Linked DNA regions of Homo sapiens. The protein of the gene in region 4 purifies or fractionates together with the protein of the main gene of each other region. This does not show direct contact. Each region holds a gene or a part of one and is shown on either strand. Other genes may lie near its edges.

Region 1 (3,500 bases), on a different chromosome or scaffold from region 4:
ATATAATCAACAGGAAAGAATAGATAATTTACATTATTTATTAAGTCTTTGAAATCCAGGGTGTATTTTAGTTACAGCACATCTTAATTCAAACTAGTCACATTTCAAGTTCTCAGTGGCCACATATGGATGGGCAGAGGCTACCATATTAGATAGCATAGGTCTAAGCAAGTCCAGAAGTATGAGACCCCCCAATAGCTAAACATGAATGGGAGAAAACTTAGTTTCTTCTAAAAGTTGTATTTATTTTTCTGATTTTCTTGAATGCAATGGAAACTGCAACCTGACTTTTAGCAAGCCCCAGGCCATCTCCTTGCATGACTTTAATCACTGGATTTTTCTTCCCAAAAATTAAATCATTGGATCCGGAGCAAAATGTAGATTAGGCCCCTCAATGTTTTTTCCCTTAAATTATAACTGAACCCAAACTCTTCCTGTCATTAATTTTAATATCTTTTTTTTTTTTTTAGACGGAGTCTTGCTCTGTCGCCCAGGCTGGAGTGCAGTGGCACAATCTCGGCTCACTGCAACCTCCGCCTCCCAGGTTCAAGCAAATCTCCTGCCTCAGCCTCCTGTGTAGCTGGGATTACAGGCACGCGCCACCACGCCCGGCTAATTTTTTTTTTTTTTTTTTTTTTTGTATTTTTAGTAGAGACAGGATTTCACCATGTTGGCCAGGGTGGTCTCAATCTTCTGACCTCATGATCCACCCACCTTGGCTCCCAAAGTGCTGGGATTACAGGCACGCGCCACCATGCCCAGCTAATTTTTGTTTTTTGTTTGGTTGGTTTTTGAGACGGAGTTTCGCTCTGTTGTCCAGGCTGGAATGCAGTGGTGCGATCTCAGCTCACTGCAAGCTCCGCCTCCCGGGTTCATGCCACTCTCCTGCCTCAGCCTCCCGAGTAGCTGGGACTACAGGCGCCCACCACTGCGTCCGGTTAATTTTTTGTATTTTTAGTATAGACGGGGTTTCACGTTAGCCAGGATGGTCTCGATCTCCTGACCTCGTGATCCGCCCACCTTGGCCTCCCAAAGTACTGGGATTACAGGCGTGAACCACCGTGCCCGGCCTTCCCCAGATATCTTCAAAGCAACTGCTAGTCCTGCTTTTGCACATTACACTCTACATTCTCATTGCCCCACTTAACTAACCCTCCCTCATGTCCTTTTCTAAAGATGTAGAAGACTTTGAAATAGCATAACATTTAAATGGTCACAAATCACCTGGCTTGAAAGTGACTAATAATAGGAAAATCAGACCTCAGGACTGAGTTCAATTTCAAGATTCTCCCACTCCACTTTGCTAAGAGGGAAACAGAAAAACATTACTCCAGCCACACAAATATGATACTGTGCAAGTATCCCACTCTTACTCATTCAAATCCTACCCATTTTTTCCCATCGTGGAACAGAGTCTTGCCAACTTATACCTCTCTCCAATAACCCATAAAGATGGTGATTTGAATTTGGGCCAAGATTTAACATTTTATGAAATACAAGAGGAGAGTTTTCTGCAAAACACAGGATTTGCAGACAAGGAGACTTAGGTTCAAATTCCAGTTCTGCCATTTATTACCTCAGAGAGGTCATACAACTTTCCTGAAGTTGTATGACCTCTCTGAGCCTTAGTCTCCTCGTTTGTAAAATGAGAGTTAAAATCTACCTCATGGAATCATTGCTAAGATTAAGCAAGATATATAAGTAGAGCTTGTGCACATGGTAGGTACTTGGAGAATGTTATTTCTCCTTCCCTCTTACTCATCTGGACAAGTTTAACTAGAATTCTAAACAGTTAAATATGTATCAATCCTTTGTATTAAATATCTTGATGGTAAAATGTTAAAATATTGATGTGAATAACAGCTGGTATTGAATATTCAAATTAGGGGAACTCTTTCATTGTTTTAAGATAACATCTGTACATTTAATCTGTGCCATGCAATAAAACAGCTTTTCCTGAAACAGCTTTTTAAAAACTATTTTTAAGAAATTCATAAGTTACTTTTAAGAACATTAGCTTAGAACATCTTCCCCTTTCACAACAAATTAGACATTAGAGCCAAAATTGCCCAAATTGGTATAGTTTCTATCTCCCTACACTTTAATCAAGATGTTTGTCTTTATATCAGCAAAAACCGCTACTTAAGTGAGATTCCTGCATCCCAATAAATGTATCTGGGCATTTGGTACTTGAGAGAGGATTGGGTTTGACAACACCCAGAAGCTAATGAGGATGTGCCTTCTCTCAGACCTTTGCATTCAGGAGCAAGAAAGCAGAAATACTTTGTGGACTCCTTTTCAGACACTTTACAAAATACAAAATTTTAACCTTGTGAAACACAAAATAAATGCAGGATAAATGTCCAAACATTTTAGCCCCTACTGTTTTTGAAACTGAATAAAGCCATGATAGTGAAAAATATTTTCCAGTCAGTGCTTTTTGGAAGCTATTTAGTAGATATTAATTTGATGGGTTAGAGATTGCTATTATCCCATTAAATGAAGCTGTTTCTACTTCATATTCAAATATATTTCAAGTTGAACTTGCTTAAATCTAAAATGCTTACACAAGCAAACTGTGGAAAGAATTTAGTCACGCAAAAGAAAACTTTTTCTTAATCCTGGATAAGTCAACTCTAAGAAAGCTGTCCAGAGCCTACAGAGCAAAAAGGACTTTCCTTCCAGCCTCCTCACCATGTCCAATCTAGTCCAGATGTGAAGAGTCAATTTTGGTTTTAAACAAAATTTGCATGCAGCAGCATTAGAACTAATGAAAACAGTATCCAGACTAAGACGTGCATACAAAATCTTTCACATCATGAGAAACTAAAAATTTGTTAAAACATCAGTCGGCAGGAACAGACATCTCAAGCTCCACTGATAAGGGAAGCAAAACTGGAACTACATGCCGCTTTTAAAAGTGTCTCAAATTTAAGCTCACTCAAGGACTATTAATAGACAGTGTCAAACTGACATGCCGTTTCATCATTAAATCATCTTATTGGTTTGCAAGTTTCCAAGCCTCAGGGCTTCATTATGCATCAGCATAGGACAACACCAGAATTTGGGGACAAAGACAACATCCCTTTTTGAAAGAGGTGGTAAGAATAAAAACAGGTTGGCCAACCTTGGAAGCCACCGCAGTATGGCTTCCCATGAACCAAAAAGGCAATTGAATTGTATTTGTTTTCAAGGCATACGTTTGGAAAAATAGCACTTTTTCCAAGCATGTGCTTAGTTAGAACAAATGATTTATTGCTTAAAACCCAGTCTTTTACTCACACGCTTGTGAAAATAAGAAGAAATTACCTATTTCACCATAGATTATTAAATGGACGTTAACAGTTATTGACAATCGAGTCTTGTGATAAGAAATTAAAATTATAAAGTAAATCTTCCCGTCTTTAAATTCTAGGTGGTAGAGTTCTGAGAACACTTACAATGAACTTTAAGGGAGTAATTGATTATGCTTTTGAAGTCTCCTATATTCACATATTGGC
Region 2 (3,500 bases), on a different chromosome or scaffold from region 4:
ATCAGAGGAAAGAAGGGATGAGTACAGGGCCACAGGGTGGTGGGAAGCAGGCAGGTAGCTGGCCACAGCAGGTGTTTTAGGGTCCTTATTGGCTCTCCCTTCTCTGTTATTGCTGAAGCAGAATCCTATACTGAGATTACAAATAGAAATTATTTATTTTGTTTAGCTATTTTCAAGTCCATTAGGCTATTAGATTATCTGGTAGTTAGGTACTAAGTATTGCTGCTTCTTCCAATCTCAACAAAGACCTTTAATCCATTTCTTTTTTTTTTTTTTGAGAGATGGAGTCTTGCTTTGTCGCCCAGGCTGGAAGTGCAGTGGCACAATCTTGGCTCATCTGCAACCTCCACTTCCTGGGTTCAAGCAGTTCTCCCTGTCTCAGCCTCCCGAGTAGCTGGGATTGTAGGTGCCTGCCACTGCACCCGGCTAATTTTTGTATTTTTAGTAGAGATGGGGTTTTGCCATGTTGGCCAGGCTGGTCTCGAACTCCTGACCTCAGGTGATTTACTTGCCTCGGCCTCCCAAGGTGCTGGGATTACAGGTGTGAACCACTGTGCCCGGTCAGACCTTTAATCTATTCTTATAGTCATGAGTTAATCAATTCCTACTTTTCAGGTTTTCCTGGTAACCTGAGTTTAAATACTTCATTGTCAGGTCCTCACCACCTCAGCCAGCAGCTCTTTCAGCCACTGTGGATAAACCTTTATTGTAATGCTGAGGTCCAGAACTTTGGAAATAAAAAATGAAAAACACAAAACAAACTTCCTTGCTTGTAAAAAAGGACTTTTTTCAAGGACTTTTCTCCTACATTCATATTTTCTTAGATATGTCTTTGTTATGGCAACTTAATGACAAAATTTTGATTGGCAATTCTGTCTTTGCACAAGACTCAAGATTAAAAACAATTCCCATCTGAACCATTCTTTTTAGAGGCAATCTGTAATCTCTCGGATTAGGAATCCACACAATGTGGGGATAATGTGGGTTTGAAGGCAGGTTCTGGTGTTTTGTAAATTTGTGACTTTGAGCAAGTTGTGTAATCTCTATGCCTCAGATTTCTCATTGGTGAAATGGAAATGATAATAGCAACAAGATCATAGGATTTTTGTGAGAATGGAATGAGATAATATATTGATAGCAGTTAGGACAGTGCATGACATAGTAAATACTCAGATGTTAGCTGCTGCTTTTTTTGTTGTTACTGATTGTTGTCTTCACGTGGTTAGTCACCAGAAATGTGTAAGTATATAACCTCTAAGACCCAGAAGGGACTAGTTCTTGGAAGTTCTGAGAAGGGAGGGAAAGAATCTGTTGTCTGGGGTGGATTTGGAAGGGCCTGGAGCACCAACATTGCCTGGGGTTAAAGTGTTGAGGTTGAAAGGGAAAACCGATCATAGATAAGTCAGGTGGTGATTGATAGGGAACACCTGCCATATTGCAGATTTTTTTCCTTTTAGTCTTGATTTGATACGGAGGCGATATACCTTGTTCCTAAATTTGAGGAAGGGGGCAATGTTAAGTGTTCTGGTTTGTTTCCATAAGTGTGAAAGTTAAAATACCATTGTGGTCCTCTCCCCTTCCTCTCTATTCCTGTAGAACATAACTACTGAAGATAATTCCCAAGACTAGCTATATTGCCTGTTAAGATTATTTTAAGATTCATAGTTTGCATTATTGAAACTTCACTGTACCAGGGTCTGTGGCATGTGCTTTATTCAAGAAATGTTTTCTGGGTATTTGTCATCTGAAAGACATTACTCCTTTCAATTAACAATTGTAGAGTGCATGAAGAATAAGAGAATAAAATCCTCTCTTGACCTTGATGTCCTTGTACTTCCGGGGAGTTTTAGTGTTGCTTGGAAATCTAATGGGTTTAGTCTTTTTCCCCCCTCTCTGAGGCTTTCATGACTTAGTGCACATGCATTTTTTAGGTTTGTGGGTCAGAGCAATCCTTCTTTTCCTTTGGCCTAGTTGGATTAGTTTTGCAAGTGTAAGGGGAGAACTTCAGAAGTCTAATGCACATGTACCTGTGTGCATTAAATGGCTGGAGTTTTAACTGCCCCTTTTTAAGCCAGGAGAGAAAGTGGACTTGGGACCAGCATTGTCAGGATGGTGGGCAGGGACTTGCTAGGTATGTCTGGAAAGCTCCTGCTGTTCTTTCTCTGCTCAGGCACGTTCTTTGGTTGGGAAAGGGCAGGCATTGTGGGAATGGCTAAGAGCCAGATTGAAAACCATTGCATTTGCTAAGCTACACCTTTCCCTAACACAGGTTCCTGGCTAGATGATTTTAAAACCCAGTCAGTGTTGGCCACATTTCAATCTTGAAGCAAAGTGATAGTGTATGGGTGTCACTTTCCTAAAATGTATTTCTGTGATGTACACTTCCCACTCTGCCCCTGCTATGGCCACCTGAGTCTCAGCATCACTGAGGCTTGTTAGGCTCAGGTCAGTAGAGCACTAGGGAGTGCTGGGCATTGTAGACAGGCTTCTTGTAGCGTCACCAGATTCCTTCCTTAGACCTGGGAACAGATTTATCTTTCCTGTCTCACTAAGGAACTGGGGAGATTATCGAGAACTAACCTTTATTGGCACATTGGAGTATACAGTGTAAAGCACTCTCACAGACATTGAAAGCCTGTGATTTAGTCCTTGATTCAGACTGAATCATTGCAAGTCCATTGATTCAACAGTGAGCAGTAAGGAAGGCAGGGCTGAGCAGGGCAGGCAGCTGGTGATGGGGAGAGCTGGACATGAATGACTTGACATTCAGTGCTGTTTTCACACAACTGGACTGCAGCTTATCATATTTATTATCTGCCTTTCTGTCTGAAGCAAGCACACGATCTTTTCATATTTTTGAATGGTTTTGATATGATTAATCAGCTGACTATAAAGCAAGGAGGAGGAAATTAGGGCTTCCAGAAGTCTTAAAAAAATACTCAGAGATAACTCACCCCTGGTGTGTGTCTGAGCTTATGGCCTTACTCCAGGCCCCCAACCCCCCCATAAATAGCTGCTGTTTTTGTTTTGTTTTATTTTGTTTTTTTTAAAAAATTGCTGCAAAGTTCTGGTTAGCTGCTCTGCACCCTTTTCTGTACTGGTCATTAAGGTCCAAGCTTGCTTTCTGACAAGTAGGTTATGGCTTATACTCCCTTATACTTCATTACGGATAAAAATAAAGAGTCTGCCAGTGGAAAGGTTCAGTCTGCTGATGTACAGCCATTGAAGGAAGACTGACTTACACTCTGCAAGGATATTTTGGCTATGCAAGGGCTTCCTGGGTTTTTGCCTCTGACTTACCTAGGAATTGTTTCCAACCACTTCCTCTTTCATGCTTTTTACATATATGCTTTTTGTGATAACAGTTTGTGTCTTTTTTTTCCCTGGGATTTCTGATAACACATAAATCCAGAGAATGAATCTGTGCTATAGAATTCTTCTATTTTCCTCCTTTCCTCTCTCTACCCTTTACCCCCGACTTTCTGTTCTTTGCTCTCTTC
Region 3 (3,500 bases), on a different chromosome or scaffold from region 4:
CACAGTTAAATCTCAGTTCCTCTGAGAAGACAAATGTGACAGTTTTACTAGATACAAATTCAAATGTCAGACCATCCCTGGCTAATCAGCAAAGGTAAATAAGGGAAAAGCTGACATACATGATCAGGCAGCATATACATCCATAAGCTTCAAGAAGCTGGTAACGGACAGATTCCTAGTAAAAGGCTTGATCTATGTCTCAGTTCAAACTGAGAGAAACAGGTCAGGATGACAATGAAGAAAGGATGACCAGTGGAAGCCAAGATGCTTCCCTAGCATATCACCACAATTCTTCAACTTTCTGGGATGAGGGTATTCTTATCCAACAAGGACATCACCATGACCCTAACACTGGCCAGGTGTGGTGGCTCACACGTGTAATACCAGGTGGGTGGATCACCTGAGGTCAGGAGTTTGACACCAGCCTGGCCAACATGGTGAAACCCCATCTCTACTAAAAAACTGCAGCAATCCACAGGACAGATTATCACAGTTTACATAACTATTCCTCGTTAATGGATATTAGATTGTTTCTTATTTTTTATTACAAAAACAAAGCTTGGATATAGAACTTGGTGCTATGTACAAGTATTTCAGATGGGCAGTTTGCAAATATTTTCTCCCATTCTGAGTTGTCTCTTCACTTTGTTGTTTCCTTTGCTCTGCAAGAGCTTGTTTTCTTTTGGAGACAGAGTCTCGCTCTGTCGCCCAGGCTAGAGTGCAGTGGCACAATCTTGGCTCACTGCAACCTCTGCCTCCTGGGTTCAAGCTATTCTTCTGCCTCAGCCTCCCAAGTAGCTGAGATTACAGGCACCCACCACTACACCTCACTAATTTTTGTATTGTTGGTAGAGATGGGGTTTTGCCATGTTGGCCAGGCTGTTCTTGAACTCCTTACCTCGTGATCTGCTGGCCTTGGCCTCCCAAAGTGCTGGGATTACAGGCGTGAGCCACTGTGCCCAGCCTGCAAGAGCTTTTTAACTTGATGTGATCCCATTTGTCCATTTTTGCTTTGGTTGCCTGTGCTTTTGGAGTATTTACTCAAGCAATCTTTGTCAAGGTCAGGTGCAGTGGCTCACACCTGTAATCCCCACACTTTGGGAGGCTGAGGAGGGCAGATCACTTGAGGCCAGGAGTTCAAGACCAGCCTGTCCAACACAGTGAAACCCTGTCTCTACCAAAAAATAAAAAAATTAGCCAGAGATGGCTAGGCATTGTGGCTCACGCCTGTAATCCCAGCACTTGGGGAGGCCGAGGTGGTCGAATCACTTGAGGCCAGGAGTTTGAGATCCATTTGGCCAACATGGTGAAACCCTGTCTCTATTAAAAATACAAAAAAAATTAGCCAGGCCTGGTGGCACATGCCTGTAATCCCAGCTACTCGGGAGGCTGAGGTAGGAGAATTCCTTCAATCTGGGAGGCAGAGGTTGCAGTGAGCCGGGATCACGCCACTGCACTCCAGCCTGGGTGACAGAGCAAGACTAGAAAGACTAAAAAAGAAAGAAATATACATATATGTATTTGGCTTCAAGTGATCCTCCCACCTTGGCCTCCCAAAGTGTTGGGATTACTGGTGTGAGTCACTGCATCTGGCCTCAAGAAGCCTTTATGGAAATGAATTGAGCTGTGAGGTTGAATGAGTATAACGGATCATCCAGAAGGGAAAATGGCACTAAAACAACAGTTCTGTTAGGTTTTCCTGCCCCTTCTATGCCTGCTGGCTCCTTCCCCGCTCCCTCCTCCCATCACCTTTACATATTTCTAACATGGCTAGGTGCAGTGGCTCACACCTGCGATCCCAGCACCTTGGGAGGCTGAGGTGGGCGGATCACCTGAGGTCAGGAATTGGAGACCAGCCTGGCCAACATGGTGAAACCCCGTCTTTACCAAAAATACAAAAATTAGCCAGCATGGTGGGGCGTGCCTGTAATCCCAGCTACTTGGGAGGCTGAGGCAGGAGAATCGCTTGAACCCAGGAGATGGAGGTTGCAGTGAGCCGAGATCATGCCACTGCATTCCAGTCTGGGTGCAGAGTGAGACCCTGTCTCAAAACAAACAAACAAACAAACAAAATTTGTCCAGACTAATGTCTTGGAGAGTTTCCCCAATGTTTTCTTTTAGTAGTTTCAGGTCTTGGATTTAGATTTAAGTCTTTAATCTATTTTGATTTGATTTTTGTACATGGTGAGAGATAGGAGTCTAGTTTTATTCTTCTGCATATGGATATCTAGTTTTCCCAGCAGCACTTATTGAAGAGATTGTCCTTTTCCCAATGTATGTTCTTGGCACCTCTGTTAAAAATAAATTCTCTGTAGATGTACAAATTTATTTCTGAGTTCTCTATTCTGTTCCATTGGTCTATGTGTCTGTTTTTATGCTAGTTTTGGTTACTATAGCTCTACAGTATAATTTGAAGTCAGGTAATGTGATTCCTCCAGCTTTGTTTTTTGCTCAGGATGGCTTTGGCTATTATGGGTCTTTTGTGGTTCCATATAAATTTCAGGACTGTGTTTTTCTATTTCTGTGAAGAATGTCACTAGTATTCTGATAGGGACTGCACTGGATCTGTAGATTGCTTTGGGCAATAAGGACATTTTGACAATACTGATTTTTCCAATTCATGAGCATGGAATATCTTTCCATTTTTTCATGTCCTCTTCAAATTCTTGCATCAGTGTTTTACAGTTTTCATTGCAGAAATCTTTCACTTCTTTGGTGAAGTTTATTCTTAGGTATTTCATTTGTAGCTATTGTAAATGGGATTACTTTCCTGATTTCTTTTCCAGATCATTCACTGTTGGCATATAGAAATGCTACTGATTTTTGTATATTTATTTTGTATCCTGCAATGTTACTGAAGTTGTTTTTCAGTTATAATAGTTTTTTGGTGGAATCTTTATGTTTTTCCAAGACTCTACGGTTTTAGAATCTCCTGGTAAGACGAAGGAGTACTCATTTACTCACTCCCTCAAAACACTGGATCTTAGCAGTCTTTTTGATTTTTTACAAATCTGATTAGTGATTTTGTATTTCTCTGAGGATGAATATTTTTCATTTGATTACTGGCCTTTTGTATTTTTACCCCTTATAAATTGCCCCAGTTTTTGCCTATTTTTTTTCCCTATAAACAAAAAGATTTGTAGCTCTTTATGTATTCTGGATATGAATCTCTTCCCTCTTCAAAAATATTATTTTTCTTCCACTCTGTGCCTCCCTTTTGCTTTGACATGCAGAAAGCTTTAATTTTTGTGTGATCAAATCTGCTAGTTGTTCTTTTAAAATTTATTATTATTAATATTATTATTATTATTAGATAGGGTCTCCTCTGTCATCCAGGCTGGAGTGCAGTGGCACAATCACAGCTCACTGCAGGCTTAACCTTTTGGACTCAGGTGATCGTCCTACCTCAGCCTCCCAGGTAGCTGGGACCACAGACACACACCACTACGCCCAGCTAATTTTTTGTATTTTTAGTGGAGACAGGGTTTTGCCATGTTACC
Region 4 (3,500 bases):
GGAGGTCAAGGCTGCAGTGAGCTGTGATTGCACCACTGCACTCCAGCCTGGGTGACAGTGCAAGACCGTGTCTCAAAACAAACAAACAAACAAACAAACAGAAGTGGATAAGTTTTTTAAAAAATCCCTTTGAGACAGACTCCATGGATACTGACTCTGGTTCCTCTTAGGGTCTAGGCATAAATGCCAGTATCAATTAACATGGAAAACTAATCTTTCAAAGAAAGGCTACCCTGTGTATTAAGATAGCACAGAAAAAGCCACCTGGGTCTGGTTTTACTAAATATCTGCAGTGGCCAAAGTGACTGTTCAGTCAGTTTTGGAAGGCCACAGAATGAGTTATGTTGCTTTCAGTTAGCATCTCAAACCACTGATTTTGTTTCCACAAGTATCCACCCCTTGTCTCTGCTCTCCTAACTGCACAGGGTTCTCAAGAAATTTGAGTGGAAGCAGGGAATGGTAAACTGGGTGACAGATGTTCTCACTGACATAGTAGTAAGTGCTGAAACATCTAAGCTGAATTTGTTGCTACTTTTTAATGGTGCCAATATTTTCACAGGAGTGTTACCTCTTAAATTCTTAGGCTGTTATATTCAGATCTGAGCTTAAATGGCGCTCCTCAGAGAGACTTTTCTAAATCATCTATTCGCCTAAGAGGCTACTCAGTCATTTCTTTTTTTTTTTTTTTCTTTGAGATGTAGTCTCGCTCTGTTGCCCAGGCTGGAGTGCAATGGTGCAATCTCGACTCACTGCAACCTCCTCCTCCCCGGTTCAAGTGATTCTTCCACCTCAGCCTCCTGAGTAGCTTGGATTACAGGCGTTCACCACCATGCCTGGCAAATTTTTTTTTTTTTTTGTATTTTTAGTAGAGACGGGGTTTTGCCATGTTGGTCAGGCTGGTCTCGAACTCCTGGCCTCAGGTGATCAGACTGCCTCCGCCTCCAAAAGTGCTGGGATTATAGGTGTAAGCCACCGCACCTGGCCTACTCAGTCATTTCTTGTCATATAACCCTATTACAATGTTTTGCATAGCACTTATCATTACTTGACGTTTTCTTGTTGTTCATGTATACATTTAATCTCTGTCTTCTTCTACTAGAATGTAAGCTCCCAAAGACCAGAGACCTTGTCTGTTTTGTCCTTCAGTTCCTGAAATAGGGCTTAGGGCACAGTAGATGCTCAATAAATGTTTGTTGAATGAATACATGTTTGAATGGTGAATGGTTAATGGTAAGTAAGGACAAATCCTAACAACAGCTTACCTTTCTTTGTTTCATTTTCCTCTGGCTCTGGGTCTGTCTGCTCATTGCTCTGTTGGCTGTTGTTGCTGATGGCCATCTGATTATTCTCTGGCTCAGGAGGACTATGGCTAGTCCCTTCTTCAGTGATATCAGTGGTTTCTGCCTCTTTTTTATCATTCATCTCATCTTCTTCCGAAGGGGCCAAGAAATGAAGCTTCAGGCCTGTGAAGTTGGAGAGCAGCAAGAATAGTGCCTCAGAGCGAAATAACTTCATGCACTCCTTCAATATCTCAGGAAGCTTACTCTCCTCAGCTTTCTCATAAAACCTGAAAAACAGCAATGTCAAGTTGTTCATCAAAGCCACAGATGTAAAATGACTCACAGAATAAAAGCTGATCGTTAGCTTTGTACCTCTCTTCCTAAATCTTGGCACAGCTTACTAAGGCACAAGTTATTACAATAGTGAGATTTTGTTAGGATTTTGTTAGGACATCCTGCTACTGGATGTCCCTGAGAACAAAACATCATTAGGGCAAGTGTCCTATTATTGGGTGTGAGCCTTGGTGCATGATTGTATATTTTTTCCTGTTGGTTATTTGATTTTCTTTCATGAACTGCCTGTCATCACCTCAGTCTATTTTTCCTTTAGGCTTTTTGTCATTTTACTAGTTATAAAAAAATGTTATAGGTGCTGAATGTAGAAGCAAATATCTCAGATGACGGGTTCTACCTTTTGTTAGGGGGACCTCGGCTGCTCCATTCCACATGTCCATGCTCCAAGGCCTCACAGACTTTCGTGAATTTCTCAGGCTAGAAAATGAGCAAATAAAGAAGCATTCAGCAGATCTCCCTATTACCCCGCACTGGTTTGGCAGGTACAGCAGCTCTGCCAAACATCAATCTGGCTGATTCCTAAAAGGTGCAGTTGACTCTCATTCCTTTTTTTTTTTTTTTTTTTTTTTGAGATGGAGTTTCACTCTTGTTGCCCAGGCTGGAGTACAATGGCGTGATCTCGGCCCACCACAACCTCCACCTCCTGGGTTCAAACGATTCTCCTGCCTCAGCCTCCCAAGTAGCTGGGATTACAGCCATGCACCACCACGCCTGGCTAATTTTGTATTTTTAGTAGAGATGGGGTTTCTCCATGTTGGCTGGTCTCGAACTCCCGACCCTCAGGTGATCTGTCCACCTTGGATTCCCAAAGGGTTGAGATTACAGACATCAGCCACTGCGCCTGGCCGACTCTCACTCCTTTCATACAAGATCCCCTACTCCTCCTGTGGTAAAGCCAGGGTGAAGACTGGATACATCATTGGCTTGCTTTAGCCAAGAGACCTGAGTGCCATTGTGGCTCATTCTCTTAAGTAGTTATATACCTTACGTCAATCTGCTCAACCTCCCAGACTGCTGCATTTATAAAATGAGGATCATAATACAGACCATAATACAACTCACAAGATGTTTTGAGGATAAAAAATTAAACTGCATTACAATCAAGGTCATTACCGTGACAATCTCTGTATAACAATTCCGATTCTCTAGGCCCCTAATTTAATAACCATTCTAAATTCAAAAAGTTAGGTACGACACAGGAAGCTGGTTAATCCATTGAAATATTCTCCACAAGAGGCTTTCCATTTATTTGTTTAATGCAGTTTCCCAAGCAGTCCTATCAGTTATAAATGCATGAAAAAGGAAAGATCCCATAGCATGGTTTAGGTAAACTGAATTGAATAGGGTATTCAGTTTATTTACTATAATACTTCTCAAAACCTTAATATGCTAATGTCAGCTATAAAATTGCTAGAGAGAGACAGGATGTAGAGTCTCAACCTTTTTTCATGGAGGAATAGCTCTTGGGACCATGGCTCCATGGGACCCACAGTCAACTGTAAAGTGCCATGCCAGCAAAAGTTATCTTATTGGCCCTCACAACAACTCTATGAGAAAGACAAGGCAGGTATGAATCCCAGTTTAACTGAAGACAAAATAAATACCCAGAGTGATTTAGTGATCTGCCCAGGTTAGTAAAACCACAGAGCCAGGGCATGAGAATAAGTTTTCTGATTTCTTTTTTTTTTTTTTTTGAGACGGAGTCTCGCTCTGTCACCCAGGCTGGAGTGCAATGGCGCAATCTCAGCTCACTGCAACCTCTGCATCCCAGGTTCAAGTGATTCTCCTGTCTCAGCCTCCTGAGTAGCTGGGATTACAGGTGCATGCCACCATGCCCGGCTAATTTTTGTTATTTTTTCTAGTAGA
Region 5 (3,500 bases), on a different chromosome or scaffold from region 4:
ATGCTCTTGTTTTTTCATTAGATCCCATTTCCTCTTGCCTAAGATATCCCACTACCAATTCTATTTCTTTCTTGTTCCGTCACTTTCTCACTCTCTCGGCTCATTTCCCTTAGCATACATTCGATTATTTCTCCCATCTTAAAAATGGGAACCCTCTCCCCCTCCATCTACCACACCATATTTCTGCTCCCCTTCACAGCAAAATTCCCCAAAAGATTACCACACTCGTGGTCTCAATTCAGCTTCTCCCATTCTCTCTTGCATCCACTCCAATGAGGCTTTCGCCTCCACTCACCCTCTGAGGAAATTGCTGTCAAGGTCACCATAACCTCCACATTGCTAAATCAAGTGGCCAATTCCCAGTCATTTATTTAGGCACTACTGGTTACCTTCTTACGGAAATGCTTTTTTCATTAAGTAATCAGGGTATCACACCCTCCTGGTTTTCCTCCTCCAACTGTTCCTTCTCAGTCTCCTTAACTGGTTCCCCATTTCCCTGACTTCTAAATATGCAGTGTTGAGAAGATCATCTTTAAAAGAAAAGATCATCTTCACTAACTCCTTTGTTGCTCTCTTCCAATCTCATGGTTTTACATACCATCTGTATACTAACAGCTTCAAATTTGTATTACTTGCCCCACCTTTCTTCTAAATTCTTGACACAATACCATTTCTGAAACCAAGTTCCTCTTCTCCTTCCTTCCCCAAACCTACTCCTTCTGCAGCTTTCCCCTTCTTGGTAAATGACAACTCCTACCTTCTAACTGCTCAGGCCAAAAACCTTGGAGTCATCTTCAATTCTTTATCTCACAACCTACATCTAATTCATCAACTATACCTCTCAGCTACACCTTCAAAAATATCCAGAATCTGAGCACTTCTCAGCCTCCACCACTACCACACTAATCCAAGCCACCATCGTCTCTAATCTGAAATTTTGCAACAACCTGGTCTTTCTGTTTACCCCCTTTCCCCTACATAGTCTATTCTCAACACAATAGCCAAAGTGTTTCTTAAGATTTATTAATCAGAGTCATTCTTCTACCCCTAAAGCTCCAAAGGCTTCTCATCTCATTCTGATTTACGGCCAAATTCCTTACAATGGCCCAGATGTCCCCGCATTATCTGGCTCCCTGAACCTCCTTTCTGTCCTCCTCTAGTACTCTCTCCCTGGGGCATGTCCCTCCAGACATACCATCCTCCCTACAGTTCCTCCCACTGAGCACACACCTACCTCAGGGTTTTTGCACTTGACCTTCCCTGCCTAGACATTCCCTGTGCCTAGAATGTTTTTCCCCATGCCTAGAATGCTCTTTCCCCAGTGCCTCGAATATAGTAGGCACCTAATAAAAAATTAGGTAAATGAATTTAGACAGACATTGAACATTCATTTTCCATTTTGCTTTTTTCATTTATTATTAACGCATAAACATTTTATCACATTGTCAGAATACTTTAAGACCATAATTTTTTGGGCTAACAATATTCCATTTTATAGACATACCACAAGTTATTTACAATTTGGGACTGAAAAACCAGGATATTTACAAATGGGATATTTTGGATGTTTCTTCCTTTGATATTTGTGAACTTCACTTCACTTTTAGAAGTGAATCTACTAGTGAGAATATGTACCTCACAGGATTGTTGTAAAGCTGAATATGAACTAATAAGTGGACACAGAGACATCAGTTTTGTTACTACTGCTTAGATTACAGAGACATCATGATGTCAATGAAAGATCATAGATCTTGAAAGAAACAGATAAAAAACATGACTCACAATATTGTCCTTTAATAGCTTAAGACACTTAACCTCTATGAGTTTCAATTAAACCATCTATTTCAAAAAGCGATTATATTAATAATAATTAAAAAGAGATGTAAAAGAGTTTAGCATAATATTGAGCTCAGAGTAGATAATCAATAAATGTTCATTCATTCACTTCTCATAAACAATACCTAGGGTTTTTAAAATTGTGAACCAGAAAGAAAAAAATATTTTTATAAATTATCCCATTACATACATATTGTTAAATAGATAATAAAAATTTTCAGTACAGAATTATTCTTTTTAATTAACAATTACTCAACACTTACCAAAGCACACTTAAGATTACAAAAATCTATATATCAATTTTGTTTCTTTTATTATAATAAAGCTAGGCAAAACAATTATTTTTAATTACTGAATGATGGTATCAATAAATAAGTTCCTTTTTATCATGTGCTTTAATGTACACACACAACAGGTCAGTAAACTATTATAATGATGACAAGTTAAGCAAGAAAACATTTTAAAAATTCGCCTCACTTCAGGGCTATTTCTTGAAGCAATCTGTGTGTTGGAGTCAGATGAATGCCAAGACATTACAAAATTTTCAGTGTTTTCCATGTTGTTTCGATATAAGTTTGAGTATATGCAGTTGGAATGGTCAACAAGTACAATTTGAACTCCTTCAGGGTATAGTCATCTATGCCTGGCCAGGACCTAGCCCAGTGCCTGACATACAAAAGACACCAGATCAGCACTGAGTAGGTAGGTAGGTGGGTGGGTAAGTGACTGATTGAGTATGGTAGTCATTAGTGCTGTCTGTCTAGGCACTACAAAGCCAATACTTTTTGTCTCCCTACCCTGTGATTGGGTACAGTCATTTAACCAGTTCTAGCCAAGGAATTGTGAGAAGAAGTGACATAAGTAATTTCCATTTTGGAGCATTCATATGAGATCTTCCATGTTCTTTTTCCACTGCTAAGTGTTCATGAAAGCATATGCTAAAAAGGAAACCCCGATCAGCCACTTAGTCTCTGAGTGAAAGCAGGAGCACAGCCCCCTGCTCATTCAATTGGAAGTTTATGACAGTAAGGGTCATACATTTTGTTAGGTTAAGTGACCGAAATTCATAAATTTTACTATAGCAGCAAAACCTAACTTATCCTGGATAATACAAGCAAGCTAATGGCATTCATTTCAGCACTAGAAATTAATCAGAGTTTAATTTCAGAAAAACAAAATGGTACAGATAAGTAGTATAGCTCAGTATAATAATTTAACCTCTCTATATGATAGTTCTCTTGCTCGCCGAGTTTGATGGCTCCTGCCTGTAATCCTAGCACTTTGGGAGACCAAGGTAAGAGAATTGCTTGAGGACAAGAGTTCAAGACCAGCCTGGGCAACATAACGAGATCCCATCTCTACAAAAAGATTAAAAAATTAGCCAGGCATTGTGGTGTACACCTGTAGTCCCAGCTACCCGGGATGCTGAGGTGGGAGGATCACTTGAGCCCATAGGTTCAAGGCTCTAGTGAGCTATGATCACATGGCTTCACTCCAGCCTGAGTGACAGAGCAAGATCCTGTCTAAAAATAAACAAACAAAAAGGATAGTTCTCTTGCCTACAAAATGGAATAATAGCATCTACCTCATAGAACAGTAATAGGGATTAATTAAGTGAATGTCTATTAAGTACTTAGGATAATATTTACGGTATTTGAAGCTTT
Region 6 (3,500 bases), on a different chromosome or scaffold from region 4:
CAGTGTGTAATATATAGTGGCTGTTTGGCTGCTTAATGATTCATTCTACTATGCATTCATACCACATACATCCAATATTAGAATAAGTCGGGTTTTGTAAACAGGCAGTGAAATTTGTGATAAATTTCTATATCAGTATTAACCAATATAGATACAGATAGATGGAAAGCGATGACAAAGTCACCAAGACGGCAGAGGAGATACCAGTTTTAATCATCCCCTCCCTCCACATATACATAAAAAGCCCCCAAATATAGACAGCTATCCACAAACCCAAGTAACTCTGGAAGGATTCAAGGGCCTATTTAACAATCTGCAGCAACACAGTGGAGCAAAAAAGAAAGAATAACTCCACAGGAAGGATCACTGAGGAGATCAGCATACCTGAGAGGCCAGGAAATGTCTAGGAACAAAGATGAAAGGTGGAGGCTATTGGTATCACTACACAGTAGAAGCCATCATGGTCCCCAGTGGCCTGCTCTGCAGAGGACACTGGCATCTCTTGCTACTGAGGTAGTCAACAGCCATTTCTGCCAGGGAACCCCAAGAGGAATACATGACTACAAAACTCTCTCATCTCAAGAAGAAGACATTGTTGAGCCACATGGAGAAAGAAGCCACCACTCTGAAAACTGATGCAGCTCCAGACCTCTGAGTCATGGCCACTCCACTAGTGCCCACACTCCAGACCCAGATTCTGCGTCTTCACTGAGCTCAACCATACCTCAGACATTGGAGCCACTGCCACAGTGAGCTAGCTCACACCCCAGGGCCCCGGAGCCAAGGTTTCTCTGAGTGTGCCTATGCTCCAGACATCCACACAGTCACCACTGAAAGCTAGCCTGTGTTCTGGACTCCAGACCAGCTGAGTGGTTGCACTGGACCCACCCACAGCTCAGACACTTGAGCTAATCACTGCCATAGTGAGCTAGCTCACATCCCAGGCTCTGGAGACAAGGTCCCTCTGAGCGTGCCTATGCTCCAGACATCAGCTCAGATGTTACAAATAGCTAGGCCCTACGCCACCCTCAGAGCCACTGTAGCTCTGTGCAGCAGTAGGGGGTATTTGTACCTAGGACGTTGGTATTACTATTGGCTTGGGCCCCAGAGCATGTCCCTCCAGATATGCCTATGCTTGAAGCCTTAGTTCTGTGGCCACTCCATGGGCATCACTCATTAGACACTAGTGCCACCTCAAGTGGGCCCACAAGCAGACCCAATGCCAAAAGGGATCTACTCGGCTATGATTTCTCTGGTGGAAGAAAAAGAGACTGGGGGGACCCTAGCAGCTCTTGCCACCAAAGACCTCAAACAGCCCTCACCACTGTTGTAGACAACCAAGGTATTGACCACTGAGGATCCCTGCAATCTTTGTCAACACTAATCTCAAGTGACAAAGCTGCACAGGAACTATACTCCTATGCCCTCATTGGAGCCAGAACCACTGCAACCCACCCAGCCATTGCTCTCACACTGTCCTACAGAGGAAGAAGGTCTTTTCACACTGAAACCTGTAATGTCTGGAAGAGGCGATTGCTCTATCAACTGCAGAGACATCAACATAAGGCAATAATAAACATGAAAAACCAAGGAGACATCTCACCACCAAAAGAACACAGTAGTTTCCCAGTAGCTGACTCCAAATAAATGGAGATTTATAAACTGCCTGACAAATAATTTAAAATAATTGTGTCAAGGAAGCTCAGCAAACTTCGAGAAAATACAAAGAAACAAGTGAAATCAGGAAAACAATAAATGAACAAAATGATAAATTTAACAAGTAGATTAAATCATTTTAAAAACTCAGAAATTTCAAAGCTGAAAAATACAATGAATGAAATGAAACAATACAATAAAGTGTCAATAGCAGAACTGATCAAACAGAAGAAAGAATCTGTGAACTTGAAGACAGGTTATTTCGTAAAGGTATAGATGGATATCCGAAGTTTTATTTGGTCAGCAGAGGATAAAATGATAGCATTAATTTTTACGCAGGCCAACAGCTTAATTAGTTATAGATACGCTCTTTTTGGCCTATAGATCAACCAGTAACAACAAACACTTCCCTCCTTTTAAACCCTGAATGGCAAAGATCTAGCACAGCCTTCATTTGAAAAACTGCAATACAAGGATAAACAATTTTAATTTTAAAATGATTCAAACTCCAAACTAAGCTAGAGTTCATGGGGGCTTTTCTTCAACTATTTATTATTCACATTTCAACAGACACGAATCCTGACTTCTAACTCTGGAACCCAAGGACCACTGGGTTTTACCAACCAGTTTTCTGCTATGTAGTAACACCTCCATCTGCTGGAACTTCAGGTGTCTGCTAATCCCATGATCCTGGAACCAGTAAAAATCCAACTTTTATTTGGAGGGGGAGGCAGATGTTATTCCACTTAATTCCATTTTAACAAATATTTACCACATGCTTAAGATGTACCATACCCTGTGCTAAGGAATGTAAGTACCAGGACTGGTTAAGCTAAACTCCCTGCTATGAAGGAGCTCACAACCTGGTGGGGGAGAGAAATGTGTAAATAACTACCATAACTCAATGAAATAAGTGACATACTTACATGTTCCATCAGCTCTGAGGTTGAGACAGTTAAGACCATTGAGAATAGTGTCTGGAAACCCAGGGGGATAGCTCTTTCCTGACAAAGGAGATGTCTCCAGGACCAGCTGCATTTCTGCTCCTCCATCAAACCAAAAGTTCAGGTGTGGAAAAGGGGTGCAGCTGAGTACTGGGATGCATTCAGAATACAGCTGCTAAATCTAACAACGGTTTATTTGGCACTATAAATGGAGCTGGATTCTGCCTGGAAGCCATAGACTGCCAAATCCTAATTTAAGACATTGCCTTTCAAAAAAATAGAATTAAAAAACTTCTAATGAAAATACCTTATGACTTAAATAATACAGCACACACATTACCTTTAAATATGACCCATAGTATTTTGTTACATATGAGCTGTCACATTGACTCAAGACAGTTATTTCTTGCTGAATGTCTTCTATTTCATCTTCGGCTTCCTCAAGGTCTATGATTTTAATAGCAACGACTTGCTGGGTACGGTTATCAATTCCTTTGAAAACTTCCCCAAATGAGCCTTTCCCAATGCGCTCTAATTTTGTGAACAGTTCTTCTGGATCAGCTATGTTATTCTGAAGGGAGTGGGGAACGAGAAAAAGAAAGAACACAAATGTTTTGAATCAAATTTTTTTAATGAAGGAAAATAAATCACATAAGACAATAACACATTTTTGTAAAAGCATACAAACTCCTCTGACTCCCCACATGTGCTTTGTTAGAACAACTGTAATCCCAAACAGGCAGCTAGTCCATATTCTAGTGAATCATACACACTAACTGAGCTTAGCTGATCCTGCTATCACAAACATTCTCACACAGCAAATATATCCAGTGCATGCCAAAACATCAGGCACTTTTTGGAATAAAGCCGCTGATTATACACAGTTTACACATTAATGCA
Region 7 (3,500 bases), on a different chromosome or scaffold from region 4:
AAGTGAGAGAGAAAGCAAAAAGATCAGTAATGACTGGGGGGTTAGGAGGAAGAGGACGGGAGGAAAGAATAAGTGGAGCACAGGAGATTTTTAGGGCAATGAAACTGTTCTACATAATACTGTAATGGTGGGTACATGGCATTAAACATTTGTCAAATCCAAAAATCTATAAAACACAAAGAGTGAACCCTTATGTAAACTATGAACTTCAGTTAATATATAAGTATCAGTTCATCAAATCTAATAAATGTAGCACAGTAATGCAAGATGTTAAGAGTGGGGAAAACTGGGCAGGGGCACTGTAGGGGGAGCATATGTGAACTCTCTGCACTTTCCTCTCAATTTTTTCTAAAACTGCTCAAAAAAAAAAATAAAGTCTATTATGTTTTTAAAATAAAATGATCCCTAACAGGAAAAAAAAATGGCAAAGGATCTGAACAAATATTTCTCCAAAGAAGATATACAAATGGCCAATAAGCATAAGATAAGATGCTGGACATCACTGTCAACAGGAAAATACAAATCAAAATCACAATGAGATACCACTTCACATACACTAGAATGGCTAGAATTAAAGTCACACACTGTTTGTGAAGATGTGGAGAAACAGAAATTTTAATACACTGCTGGAGTGAATAAAAAATGATGCAGCCATTTCAAAAATTAGTCTGGCAGTTCTTCAACTGAACATAGTTATCATGTGTCCCAGCAATTCTACTCCTAGATATACACCCAAGGGAAATGTCCACACAAAAACTTGTACACCAATGTTTATAGCAGCATTATTCATAATAGCCAAAAGGGGTAAATAATGTCCTAAATGTCCATCAACTGACAAGCGAATAAACAAAATGCAGTGTATCCATGTAATGGAATATCATTTGGCCATAAGAAGTAAGTACTGATACATGCTACGGCATAGACAAATCTTGAAAGCACTATACCAAGTGAAAGAATCCAGTCACAAAAGCCGGTATGATATATAATCCCGTTCATATGAAACATACAGAATAGGGAATCCAGAGGCAGAAAGACTGGTGATTGCCGGGGCTACAACTGCAGGGGTGCAGCTGATGGATATGGAGAGATGGAATTCAAAGCTAAAGGGCACAGGAGGCAGGGTGTTGTGGTGCATGCCTATACTCCTAGCTACTAGGGAGGCTGAGGTGGGAGAATCGCTTGAGCCCACGAGTTCAAGGCTGCACTGAGCTATCAAACCACCGCACTCCAGCCTGGGCTGGGCGACTGAGCAAGACCCCATCTCTTCAAACAAACAAACAAACAAAAACCTAGTTGATCCTGCCAGCAAAAACTAAGGTAAAGGGCATAGGATTTGATTTGGTTTTTTTTGAGGTGGAAAAACAATCCTAAAACTGATTGGAGTGTTGTTTACCAACATCTGTGAATATACTAAAAACCACTGAACTGTATACTTCAAGTGGGTGAATTACATGGTATGTGAATTATCAATAAAGCTGTTTTAGAAATCCTAACACTTGCTGTGCTATAACTGCGCAAAGTACCACAATGCAATAATTGCAGAGTCAACCCTACGATTATAGTATGACACAGGAAAACTTAAAACTGCACTTAAGATCAAGCTAGATGTAGAGCATATTAGCACAGCAAAAAATAAACGACTGCACTAAAGAATCATCCTTCAAGGATTACAGAATTTAAGTGCTGAAAAGGAGAGTACAACTCCTCTGTTTTTTTAAAAAAAGGTAAAGACTCATAACTTAGTCACTTGTAAAATTCTGGATTGCTCTCTAAGAGATTTTCAAATATAATTTAAAAGAAAACGTACAACCAAGACAATAATGAAAATCTATAGAAAAATTTATTATTACCTTTAGCTTCTGAACATACAGCCAAAAATCCATCTTCTGTCATTGCTTTAAACAAAGGTCTGACTCCATATGTATCTCTACCCAGGAACACTTTCTTATTGGCAGTATCCAGTAAAACAAATGCAAACACACCATCCAACATACAAATTGTTTGCTCAATTCCTCCTTTGTCATAAAGATGAAGGATTATCTCACCATCCACTTTGGTCTGGTATTCAAATTCAAAATGCTGTTGCATCTTAGGAAGCGAAAGCAAAACCAAAATGTTAGACTCCTTGTACATTCACTAATAATTTTTTATTGCAAAGATGCTTCAGTATTTCTGAGCTCTATAATCCTTTCATGCACTTTGGTGATTTAGGAGAATCACAGCATTATTAAACTATGGTTCGCTTCAACTCATATTCTGCAAATTCTGTTCAACATAAAGCCGAACCCATGAAAATTTTAGTTGCAGTCTGATAAACAGAACATAATGGGAATGTGCCAGAACAGTAACCTGTGGAGGGATGGAAATGTATATTATATACATACCATATATGTAATACATACATATATTTATATATATACAGATTGAGTATCCCTTATCTGAAATGTTTGGAACCAGAAGTGTTTTGTGTTTTGGACTTTGGAATATTTGCATATATGTGAGATATCTTGGGCATGAGACCCAAGTCTAAACATGAACTTCATTTATGTTTCATATATCTTATACACAAAACCTAAAGGTAATTTTATATAATATTTCAAATAATTTTGTGCATGAAACAAAGTTTGCATACATGGAACCATCAGAAAGCAAAGGGGTCACTATCTCAGCTACCATGTGGAAAATCTGTGGCTGTTTGACATCATTGACCATCATTCCTGACTCTGAATTTATTATGCTGCTGATGAGCAATCATTTTCATATGCTTATAAAATATGACATACCATTAATACAGTAAGAAAGTAATAAGTAGCATAGTAGAATCACCAGAATACCTGCATCAGCTGTTAAACAGCTGTACAAACAATGGCAGGCTTTCAGACTCCACCTACAATGCTGCGTTTTGATTAAAAGGTTACTATACACTGTATTTTTTTTTCCTTTTTCAGGTGAGAAGAAACATCAGAAGCAGCTGAGCAACTAGGAAGCGGGTCCTCTGAGATTGAAGAGGCATTCGGCCAGATGACTTTTAAATGTTTCTCCAGAGTCATCTGCTTCATTAACAATGGCTTTTGTCTTGGAAGGCTCTCTTTGATTTTATAAACTGACATGACCTCTTGTTCTGTTATGAATGCAGGTAGCTCTAGTCCTTCAATATCTCTATCACACATTTTCACCATGTCATCTATACCTTTATACTACAGTCCAGTTTCTCCTACAGCTTGACTTTCTGTGTTATAAGTGTTTCTACTTTTCCTTATCACTGCTGCTCATAGAAATATCTACAGGTCTTTTTGACATTTTCAGTATCTTAACACCACAGAGCAGAAAATAAGCAAAAATACACAATGGATAATGCACATAAGTCCCATCTGTGGGGATCCTGCCAATGGCGTATCCAGCTTGAACATGTGCCATTCTATTACCCTTTGTGGGCGTGCTTGCATGGGGAAATCCGGGCATGTGTAGAAAAGTTATACTGCAGCTGAAGCGGGCTGAGA

Evidence for each region.
Region 1: the proteins of OGFOD1 (region 4) and MCTS1 fractionate together in Homo sapiens (co-fractionation; one large-scale study listed by BioGRID). This does not show direct contact.
Region 2: the proteins of OGFOD1 (region 4) and ISOC1 fractionate together in Homo sapiens (co-fractionation; one large-scale study listed by BioGRID). This does not show direct contact.
Region 3: the proteins of OGFOD1 (region 4) and PLPBP fractionate together in Homo sapiens (co-fractionation; one large-scale study listed by BioGRID). This does not show direct contact.
Region 5: the proteins of OGFOD1 (region 4) and PRCP fractionate together in Homo sapiens (co-fractionation; one large-scale study listed by BioGRID). This does not show direct contact.
Region 6: the proteins of OGFOD1 (region 4) and STK26 fractionate together in Homo sapiens (co-fractionation; one large-scale study listed by BioGRID). This does not show direct contact.
Region 7: the proteins of OGFOD1 (region 4) and ASNS fractionate together in Homo sapiens (co-fractionation; one large-scale study listed by BioGRID). This does not show direct contact.

What each region holds. Positions count from the first base shown.
Region 1 is NC_000023.11:120,617,601-120,621,100, reverse strand, and holds part of MCTS1 (malignant T-cell-amplified sequence 1), read right to left. Parts: 3' UTR 1-3,500. UniProt on the Homo sapiens protein: Translation regulator forming a complex with DENR to promote translation reinitiation.
Region 2 is NC_000005.10:129,108,249-129,111,748, forward strand, and holds part of ISOC1 (isochorismatase domain-containing protein 1), read left to right. Parts: intron 1-3,500.
Region 3 is NC_000008.11:37,769,145-37,772,644, reverse strand, and holds part of PLPBP (pyridoxal phosphate homeostasis protein), read right to left. Parts: intron 1-3,500. UniProt on the Homo sapiens protein: Pyridoxal 5'-phosphate (PLP)-binding protein, which may be involved in intracellular homeostatic regulation of pyridoxal 5'-phosphate (PLP), the active form of vitamin B6.
Region 4 is NC_000016.10:56,468,554-56,472,053, reverse strand, and holds part of OGFOD1 (prolyl 3-hydroxylase OGFOD1), read right to left. Parts: intron 2,052-3,500; coding exon 1,972-2,051; intron 1,652-1,971; exon of another isoform or gene 1,568-1,651; coding exon 1,263-1,567; intron 1-1,262.
Region 5 is NC_000011.10:82,890,431-82,893,930, forward strand, and holds part of PRCP (lysosomal Pro-X carboxypeptidase isoform 1 preproprotein), read right to left. Parts: intron 1-3,500. UniProt on the Homo sapiens protein: Cleaves C-terminal amino acids linked to proline in peptides such as angiotensin II, III and des-Arg9-bradykinin. This cleavage occurs at acidic pH, but enzymatic activity is retained with some substrates at neutral pH.
Region 6 is NC_000023.11:132,054,302-132,057,801, reverse strand, and holds part of STK26 (serine/threonine-protein kinase 26), read right to left. Parts: intron 3,172-3,500; coding exon 2,941-3,171; intron 1-2,940. UniProt on the Homo sapiens protein: Serine/threonine-protein kinase that acts as a mediator of cell growth. Modulates apoptosis. In association with STK24 negatively regulates Golgi reorientation in polarized cell migration upon RHO activation.
Region 7 is NC_000007.14:97,862,409-97,865,908, forward strand, and holds part of ASNS (asparagine synthetase [glutamine-hydrolyzing]), read right to left. Parts: intron 2,089-3,500; coding exon 1,851-2,088; intron 1-1,850.